2 linked regions of the Homo sapiens genome follow. The protein of the gene in region 1 purifies or fractionates together with the protein of each later gene. This does not show direct contact. Each region holds a gene or a part of one and is shown in the gene's direction. Other genes may lie near its edges.

Evidence for each region. The genes of interacting proteins can lie anywhere in the genome.
Region 2: the proteins of AKAP10 (region 1) and ARHGEF2 purify together in Homo sapiens (tandem affinity purification; one large-scale study listed by IntAct). This does not show direct contact.

Annotation. Positions count from the first base shown.
Region 1 is NC_000017.11:19,956,230-19,961,626, reverse strand, and holds part of AKAP10 (A-kinase anchor protein 10, mitochondrial isoform 1 precursor), read left to right. Parts: intron 1-3,055; coding exon 3,056-3,613; intron 3,614-5,397. UniProt on the Homo sapiens protein: Differentially targeted protein that binds to type I and II regulatory subunits of protein kinase A and anchors them to the mitochondria or the plasma membrane.
Region 2 is NC_000001.11:155,961,548-155,965,757, reverse strand, and holds part of ARHGEF2 (rho guanine nucleotide exchange factor 2), read left to right. Parts: coding exon 1-127; intron 128-345; coding exon 346-455; intron 456-626; coding exon 627-770; intron 771-2,574; coding exon 2,575-2,825; intron 2,826-3,039; coding exon 3,040-3,165; intron 3,166-3,535; coding exon 3,536-3,653; intron 3,654-3,848; coding exon 3,849-4,097; intron 4,098-4,210. UniProt on the Homo sapiens protein: Activates Rho-GTPases by promoting the exchange of GDP for GTP.

The DNA of each region.
Region 1 (5,397 bases):
ATAAGTTGAAAAAAAGATCCATGAACCAATGGACTTCTAATAAAATCAGTCCTGCTTTTGACATCTCTCTCTACTTTTGTGTATATTCAAACCAGAGTGTCAATGTGTTTGTGGGGCACACTTAGCAATAATACATAGCAGACAAAATGCATATAGCTCAGAGAGTAAAATTGTAAGTTTTGCTAGATCACTCATAAATTGCTGATGAGAATTTAAAATGGTGCAGATGCTCTGGAAAACAGGCAGTTTCTTTCTTTCTTTTTTTTTTTCTTTTTGAGACAGGGTCTCACTCTGTTGCGCAGGCTGGAGTACAGTGGCGTGATTACAACTCACTGCAGCCTCACCCTCCTCAGGTTCAGGTGATCCTCCCTCAGTCTCCTGAGTAGCTGGGACTATAGGCATGCACCACCACGCCTGGCTAATTTTTGTATTTTTTTTTTTTTTTTTTGTAGAGACGGGGTTTCGCCATGTTTCCCAGGCTGGTCTCAAACTCCTGGAATCAAGCGATCCACTTGCGTAGGCCTCCCAAAGTGCTGGGATTACGGGCGTGAGCTACTGTGCCTGGCCTAGGCAGTTTGTTTGTTTGTTTGTTTGTTTGTTTATTTATTTGTAGACGGAGTCTCACAGGCTGGAGTGCAGTGGCCCAATTTTTGGCTCACTGCAACCTCCGCCTCCCAGGTTCAAGCTATTCTCCTGCCTCAGCCTCCTGAGTAGCTGGGATGACAGGTGCCTGCCATAATGCCTGGCTGATTTTTGTATATTTAGTAGATATGGGGTTTCACCATGTTGGTCAGGCTGGTTTTGAACTCCTGACCTCAGGTGATCAGCCCGCCTCGGCCTCCCAAAGTGCTGGGATTACAGGCATGAGCCGTCATCCCTGGCTGGTGGTTTCTTATGACGTGAAACATGCAATTACCATATGACCTAGCAGTTGCACTCTGTATTTATCCCAGATAAATGAAAACTTACCTTCCAATAAAAACCTGTGCACAAATGTTCATAGCAGCTTAATATTGAAAAACTGGATGTTCTTCAGCAGGTGAATGAACTGGTTCATTCATACCATGGAATACCATTCAGCAATAAAAAGGAACAAACTGTTGATACATTTAACCACCTGGATGAATATCAAGGGAATTATGCTGTCAGACAAAAACCAGTCCCTAAAGACTACATATAGTATGATTCCGTTTGGATAATATTCTTGAAATAGAGAAATTAAGAGAAATGAAAAGATTAGTGTTTGCCAGATGTTAGAGACAGGGAGGTGAGAGGGGTAAGTGGGTGTAGTTATAAAAGTGCAACATGAGGGATCTTTGTGATGTTGAAGTTGTATCTTGGCAGTGGATGCAGAAATCTCAATGTGATAAAATTACAAAGAACTAAAAACAAGAATGAGTATAGATAAAACTGGGGAAATCTGAACAAGTTAGAGTGTTGTATCACTGTCAGTATCTTAGAGTGATATTGTACTATAGCTTTGCAAGATGTTACCATGGGAGAAACTAAAGTGTACAAGGGATCTCTAGGTATTATTATTTTTTTAGAGATGGGGTTTCACTATGTTCCCCAGGCCGGTCTTGAACTCCTGGGCTCTAGTGATCCGCCTGCCCCAGCCTCCTAAAGTACTGGAATTACAGGCGTGAGCGACCATGCCTGGCCCTTTCAGTATTGTATCTTAGAACTTCATGTGAATCTAGCATTATCTCATAGAATTTAATTAAAAGAAATTGTAAACCTCACAGAAGATCAGAATTTCCTCAAGTTTGTGATGTTGACAAAGATGAACTAGTTGACACTGACAGTAAGACTGAGGATGAAGACACGACGTGCTTCAAAAAAATGATTTGAATATCAATGGATTAAGAAGAACTCTTTTGACAAATTGATGAAACCCTCAGTCAGTTTTATAAGAATGCCCATCTTTATGATCATGCTATGAAAGCCAATTTTTAAAAAAATTTTTTGTCTTTCCTAACAATTAGCTTGTGGTTATAATTTAAATTTAGTTAAATATAAGATAAATGATTTTTTATTAAGTTTAGTTTCATTTTTCAAGGTACGATCTCAAAGCTACTCTTTAACCTACTATGAATGAATAATGCTGAGTTCATAACATCTTTGTAGATATATCCACAATTTTCCCTCAGGATAAGTGCCTACAAGTGGAATTACTGGACTGAAAATAATGCAGTTTGCTAAGACTTTGCTATCTGTTCCTGAATGCTCCTCCAAAAAGGTTTTGCCAGTTTACATCCTCATGACCAGCGAATGAGAGTGTTGCCTATTTTCCTGTGCCCTTGTTACTGCTTAATAATTTTTGAAAAAAATCTAATTTGACAGACAAAAATGCATTTTATGTTAATTTGCTTTTCTGGGATTTTTAATGAGGTTGAGTATAGTTTTTAATATTTTTATTGGCCCCTTTGGAACTAGTATCATAAGTTTTTTTTCTTAAGAATTTATGTAGTCTGGGCTGGGCGCAGTGGCTCACGCCTGCAATCCCAGCACTTTGGGAGGCCGAGGTGGGTGGATTGCCGAAGGTCAGGAGTTTGAGACCATCCTGACCAACATGGTGAAACCGAATCTCTACTAAAAGTACAAAAACTAGCTCAGCGTGGTGGCGGGTGCCTGTAATCCCAGCTACTTAGGAGGCTGAGTCAAGAGAATCGCTTGAACCCGGGAGGTGGAGGTTGGTTGCATTGAGCCGAGATCGCGCCATTGCTCTCCAGCCTAGGCAACAAGAGTGAAAAGTCTCAAAAAAAAAAAAAAAAAAAAAAAAAAGAATTTACATGGTCTGAATTGCCATTAAAAGAGATATGAGAATTATTGAGTAACAAATAACTTTTTAATAATTTAGGCAAGTTTTGGACGATTGTACTTTGTTTAGAAACCAAAAGCATAGTATTTGTAGTTTTTTTATTTACTTTAGTTGCTAGGAAGTAAACTTTATTCAAGGTCTCTGGTACCAGTTGTTGCTAAAAGTGATTGACTAATCTGTCAATCTGAAATTATTTGTTGCTGAACTGCTAATTCTTTTGCTTCTATCTTTTAGGCAGATCTTGTCTGGACTACCAGACTCAAGAGACCAAATCAAGCCTTTCTAAGACCCTTGAACAAGTCTTGCACGACACTATTGTCCTCCCTTACTTCATTCAATTCATGGAACTTCGGCGAATGGAGCATTTGGTGAAATTTTGGTTAGAGGCTGAAAGTTTTCATTCAACAACTTGGTCGCGAATAAGAGCACACAGTCTAAACACAGTGAAGCAGAGCTCACTGGCTGAGCCTGTCTCTCCATCTAAAAAGCATGAAACTACAGCGTCTTTTTTAACTGATTCTCTTGATAAGAGATTGGAGGATTCTGGCTCAGCACAGTTGTTTATGACTCATTCAGAAGGAATTGACCTGAATAATAGAACTAACAGCACTCAGAATCACTTGCTGCTTTCCCAGGAATGTGACAGTGCCCATTCTCTCCGTCTTGAAATGGCCAGAGCAGGAACTCACCAAGTTTCCATGGAAACCCAAGAATCTTCCTCTACACTTACAGTAGCCAGTAGAAATAGTCCCGCTTCTCCACTAAAAGAATTGTCAGGAAAACTAATGAAAAGTGAGTATGTGATTTTCTTGTGTGTACATATGTGTCTCACTTTCTTTTTTTAATTTACTAAGCAGAACTTCAGATGAGGAATAAAATGATTGGAATATTTTTTTTCTCCTCTAACTACTTGTAAATTTGGGAGAATTTGGAGAGTGTAGTAGAGTCAGATCAGTGTATGGAAAAGGAGCAGGAGTGACTGGACCTTCTAAGAAGTGTGTTATCAGAATTAGTAAATGAAGGGTCAAATGTCCTACTTTTCCCCTCCACTGATTTTGACATCAAACCATTATCCACATAGCCTTATTTCCTCCCTCGGTCTTAATTTTATTAATATTTTACTGCACTTTGCAGATAAAATTTTTAAAAAATTTTTAAAAATTGCCAATAAGTGACATTTATTAAGTTCAGTGCTTAGTGTATATTTGGATTTTATTTATTAGTCACAAGACCTTTGTGCAGGTAGTAGGCATGATTATCTTTTTTTTTTTGAGATGGAGTCTTGCTCTGTCGCCCAGGCTGGAGTGCAATGGCGCGGTCTCGGCTCACTGCAACCTCCGGGTTCATGCCATTCTCCTGCCTCAGCCTCCCAAATAGCTGGGACTACAGGCGCCTGCCACCACACCCGGCTAATTTTTTTGTATTTTTAGTAGAGACGGGGTTTCACCATGTTCGCCAGGATGGTCTCGATCTCCTGACTTTGTGATCCGCCTGCCTCGGCCTCCCAAAGTGCTGGGATTACAGGCATGAGCCACCGCGCCCGGACTGATTATCTTATTTACACATGAGAAAACCAGGGCTTAGAAAGGTTAGGTAACTTCCTCTAGGTTGTACAGTAAATGTGGACCTAGAAGCATTTTGACAAGAGCACCTGTTTTTTTTTCTTCTCTATTAGTTTAGAAATTATATACTCTTAATTATCACCTGGGATTTTGATTAGACAGCCTTCATGTTCTTTTTCATCTTAAATGTTCTTTGTGTCTTAAAGGGCTAAGTGATTTCTTCAGATCTTTTAGTTCACTCATTCTCAGTGAACTAAAATGAGGTCTAATCTGCTACTGAATCAAGTTTTCAGCATGTTATTTCCTTCCTCCCTCCCTCCCTCCTTCCTTCCCTCAACCAGGCTCCCGAGGAGCTGGGATTACAGGCGCCCGCCACCACTCCTGGCTAATTTTTATATTTTAGTAGAGACGGGGTTTCACCATGTTGGTCAGGCTGATCTTGAACTCCTGACCTCAAGTGACCCACCTGCCTCGGCCTCCCAAAGTGCTGGGATTACAGGCATGAATCACCACACCTGACGGCATGTTATTTTCATCGCAAAGTTACTGTAAGCTGGGAGAAGTGGCACACACTTGTACTCCCAGCTACTCAGGAAGCTTAAGGTGAGAAGATTGCTTGAGCCCAGGAGTTTTGAGACCAACCTGGGCAACACAGCAAGACCCCAGCTCAAACAAAGAAAAAAAGTTATTGAATTTTTTATTTCTATGGATCATTTTTTGTAGTTTCTTATTCCTTTCACCCTTCATTCCCACTTTTGATCCCATCTTTTATTTATTTAGTTTTATTAAATGTATATTTGTCTGATAATTCTGCTATCTACAGTTTTTTGTGGACCTGACTCAGCATTTCTTTGTTTCTTCGGATTCAGACTGTTGGTGGCTTGTGATTTTAGTGATTTTTGGCCGTGAACATGTTTCTTGGACTTTTGTCTGTGGGAATTCTCTGTGTACTCTGTATAAATTAAGTTACTTCAGGTGTTTTGCATTTTCTTTTGCCATGCACCTGGGGCCTGG
Region 2 (4,210 bases), on another chromosome or scaffold:
CCATCCGGGAGCGGCCAAGCTCGGCCATCTACCCCTCCGACAGCTTCCGGCAGTCCCTCCTGGGCTCCCGCCGTGGCCGCTCCTCCTTGTCTTTAGCCAAGAGTGTTTCTACCACCAACATTGCTGGGTGAGCCTCTGTTTGGGGAAAGGGGCAGCCAGAGAGTGTGGCAGTGGAGGCCAAGGGGGTGCTGAGAGGTCCCTTTCCATCCCTGAGTTCAGAACTGTAGACAGACAAATAAGGAGAACTTAGGGGGACCGCCTCTTGGATCCTGGCTTTGGTTCCCTACCTGGGAAGGGATCTTTTGCCCGACTGGGGGTGATGCAGACAGCCTCCACTTTCTTCAGACATTTCAATGATGAGTCTCCCCTGGGGCTGCGCCGGATCCTCTCACAGTCCACAGACTCCCTCAACATGCGGAACCGAACCCTATCCGTGGAATCCCTCATTGACGAAGGTGAGCAGGCCTGGGCCCAGGGGAGCCCTGAGGAACATGAAGAGGGGCTGGGGGATGAGAGGCTGGTGGGAGTAGCCTGGAAGGACAAGGAGGGAAGGGATCTAGAGAAGGGCCAGGGACCCAGGGAAGGGAACTCAAGACCTCTGAGTTGCTTGCCCTGCTAATGTCCAGCAGAGGTAATCTACAGTGAGCTGATGAGTGACTTTGAGATGGATGAGAAGGACTTTGCAGCTGACTCTTGGAGTCTTGCTGTGGACAGCAGCTTCCTGCAGCAGCATAAAAAGGAGGTGATGAAGCAGCAAGATGTCATCTATGGTAAGCCAAGACCACCCTAGTCTTCCTCTTCCTTCACCAGGTCCTGTTTATCTACTTCCTTCTTTATTTTTCTTTTTCTTTTTTTTTTTTTTTTTGAGATGGAGTCTCACTCTCTCAACCAGGCTGAAGTGCAGTGGCATGATCTCGGCTCACTGCAGCCTCCACCTCCCAGGTTCAAGCGATTCTCATTACAGGCGCCTGCCACCATGCTGGCTAAGTTTTGCATTTTTAGTAGAGACGGGGTTTCACCATGTTAGCCAGGCTGGTTTCAAACTCCTGACCTCAGGTGATCTGCCCGCCTCAGCCTCCCAAAGTGCTGGGATTACAGGCGTGAGCCACCGTACCCGGCTGTGTCCTTCTTTCTACCAGCCCCTACCTCTCAAAACCCTTTCCCTCTTGGCCTACAAGACCCTGCCTGGTATCCCACAGGTTGCCCACTAGGTCCCTACCTCTTGATGCTGTTGGTCTCCAACACCCTCTCTTTATCCCTTCTTTATCTCTGTCTTCAGTCTTTACTCTGTGCTTGTTCCACGCTTAACACCGTGCTGGAGACTGTGGGAAGCCTCGACATGTAGAAGACATATGGTTCTTACCCTAAAATAGCTCACAGCTTGAGATGATAAGGTGTAAAGATAAAAAATGGAACTGGGCGTGGTGGCTCATGCCTATAATCTCAGCGATTTGGGAGGCCGAGGTGGGAGGATCACTTGACGCCAGGATTTTGAGACCAACCTAGGCAACAAAGCAAGACCTCTGTCTCTAAAAAAAAAATATATATATATATATATGTATATATATATATATATATATATATATATATTTTTTTTTTTTTTTTTTTTTTTTGAAGCAGAGTCTTGCTCTGTCGCCCATGCTGGAGTGCACTGGCGCTATCTCGGCTCACTGCAACCTCCGCCTCCCAGGTTCAAGCAATTCTCCTGCCTCAGCCTCCCAAGTAGCTGGGATTACAGGCGCCTACAACTACACCCGGCTAATTTTTGCATTTTTAGTAGAGACAGGGTTTCATCATGTTGGCCAAGCTGGTCTCGAACACCTGACCTCAGGTGATGCACCCGCCTCGGCCTCCCAAAGTGCTGGGATTATAGGCGTGAGCCACCGTGCCCAGCCGTCTTTAAAAAATATTTTAAAAAACTAGTCAGGTGTGGTGGCATGTGCCTATAGTCCCAGCTACTTGGGAGGCTGAGACAGGAGGATCGCTTGAGCCCAGAAGTTCGAGGCTGCAGTGAGTTATCATTGTGCCACTACACTCCAGCCTGGGCACCAGAGTAAGACCTCATTTCTGGAAAAAAAAAAATAATAATAAAATTTTTGAAAGATAAAAATGAGGGCCGGGTGTGGTGGCTCATGCCTGTAATCCCAGCACTTTGGGAGGCCGAGGTGGGGAGATCACGAGGTCAGGATTTCGAGACCAGCCTGACCAATATGAAGAAACCCCATCTCTACTAAAAATACAAAAATTAGCCGGGCCTGGTGGTGCGTGCCTGTAATCCCAGCTACTCAGGAGGCTGAGGCAGGACAACTGCTCGAACCTAGGAGGTGGAGGTTGCAGTGAGCTGAGATCGCGCCATTGCACTCCAGCCTGGGCAATACAGTGAGACTCTGTCTCAAAAAAAAAAAAAAAAAAAGATAAAAATGATTAGAAAAGTATCTAAGATCATAATAATGCAGAATATTAACCTGGAATGGACCTTGAAAACCTCACGTGAACTGTGAGGTCCTTATCCTAGGGCCCCACGAGTTTTAGCCAAGCCAGGGTAGAGGCCAAATGTCCCAATGTCCCCCACAGAGCTAATCCAGACAGAGCTGCACCATGTGAGGACACTGAAGATCATGACCCGCCTCTTCCGCACGGGGATGCTGGAAGAGCTACACTTGGAGCCAGGAGTGGTCCAGGGCCTGTTCCCCTGCGTGGACGAGCTCAGTGACATCCATACACGCTTCCTCAGCCAGCTATTAGAACGCCGACGCCAGGCCCTGTGCCCTGGCAGCACCCGGAACTTTGTCATCCATCGCTTGGGTGATCTGCTCATCAGCCAGGTGGGAAAAGGCAGGACCCCTGGGTGACATTCATGGAAGGAGGTGTGACTGGGTTGGGCATTTCTTGGGTCCAAATTCTAGGGGTTGGAGGGGAGCCAGGGAGAGCTGGAGAAACAGGAAGCCAGCCTGTTTGGCAGGAGGCCAGAGGTGTGTCCAGTGGGTAAAGTGTGGCTTTGGGGGAATGCTGACCTAACCTTACTCGACCAACTTCTAGTTCTCAGGTCCTAGTGCGGAGCAGATGTGTAAGACCTACTCGGAGTTCTGCAGCCGCCACAGCAAGGCCTTAAAGCTCTATAAGGAGCTGTACGCCCGAGACAAACGCTTCCAGCAATTCATCCGGGTGAGCGGACCTCTCCAGATCCCATGCTCATGGCCCAAACCCACCCTCCCCAACTCATGGGGGTAGTGCCTGTGAGCTGCACCCACATGGAGGTCAGGCATTCGCCACCCGTGCAGACCATCCATACACAGATCCTGTCAGCAGTAACCCCTCAGAATGCTAGAGCACGTTGTGGTAGTTTCCCAAGTACTTTTTGCTCCTTCAGTTGGTCCTCACAACAAACCTGTGGCGTTGTTATCCCCATTTTCCAGATATGTCACCTAGGCAAGCATGAGGTAAATGGCCACGCCAGGGCCAGCACCAGAGCTCAGGCCCCAGGCCTTTCTGTTGCCCTCCCCTCTGGCCCTGAGCCCTGCCTCCTCCCTTGTAGAAAGTGACCCGCCCCGCCGTGCTCAAGCGGCACGGGGTACAGGAGTGCATCCTGCTGGTGACTCAGCGCATCACCAAGTACCCGTTACTCATCAGCCGCATCCTGCAGCATTCCCACGGTGAGTAGGCAGGCCCAGGAGAGGGCCACTGGGAGACGGCCACCTGGGGTGAGGAAAGGCTCGGTATGACCACAGGAAGGGTGGGGTCGGGTGTGAAACCCTGGGCAGCCTCTAAAGGTGGAATCAAGACACGATGGGAACTGGGGTGTGAGTGAAACTGGTTGAGCCGTTCCCCATGCCAACCCCCGGTGCCAGGGATCGAGGAGGAGCGCCAGGACCTGACCACAGCACTGGGGCTAGTGAAGGAGCTGCTGTCCAATGTGGACGAGGGTATTTATCAGCTGGAGAAAGGGGCCCGTCTGCAGGAGATCTACAACCGCATGGACCCTCGGGCCCAAACCCCAGTGCCTGGCAAGGGCCCCTTTGGCCGAGAGGAACTTCTGAGGCGCAAACTCATCCACGATGGCTGCCTGCTCTGGAAGACAGCGACGGGGCGCTTCAAAGGTCAGACCTGCTCGGCAGACTAGGCAGGAATTCAAAGTCAGATGGAGAGTGGGAGATGCCTGCAGGTCTTAGAATCAACCTCTCTTGGCCGGGTGCAGTGGCTCAACGCCTGT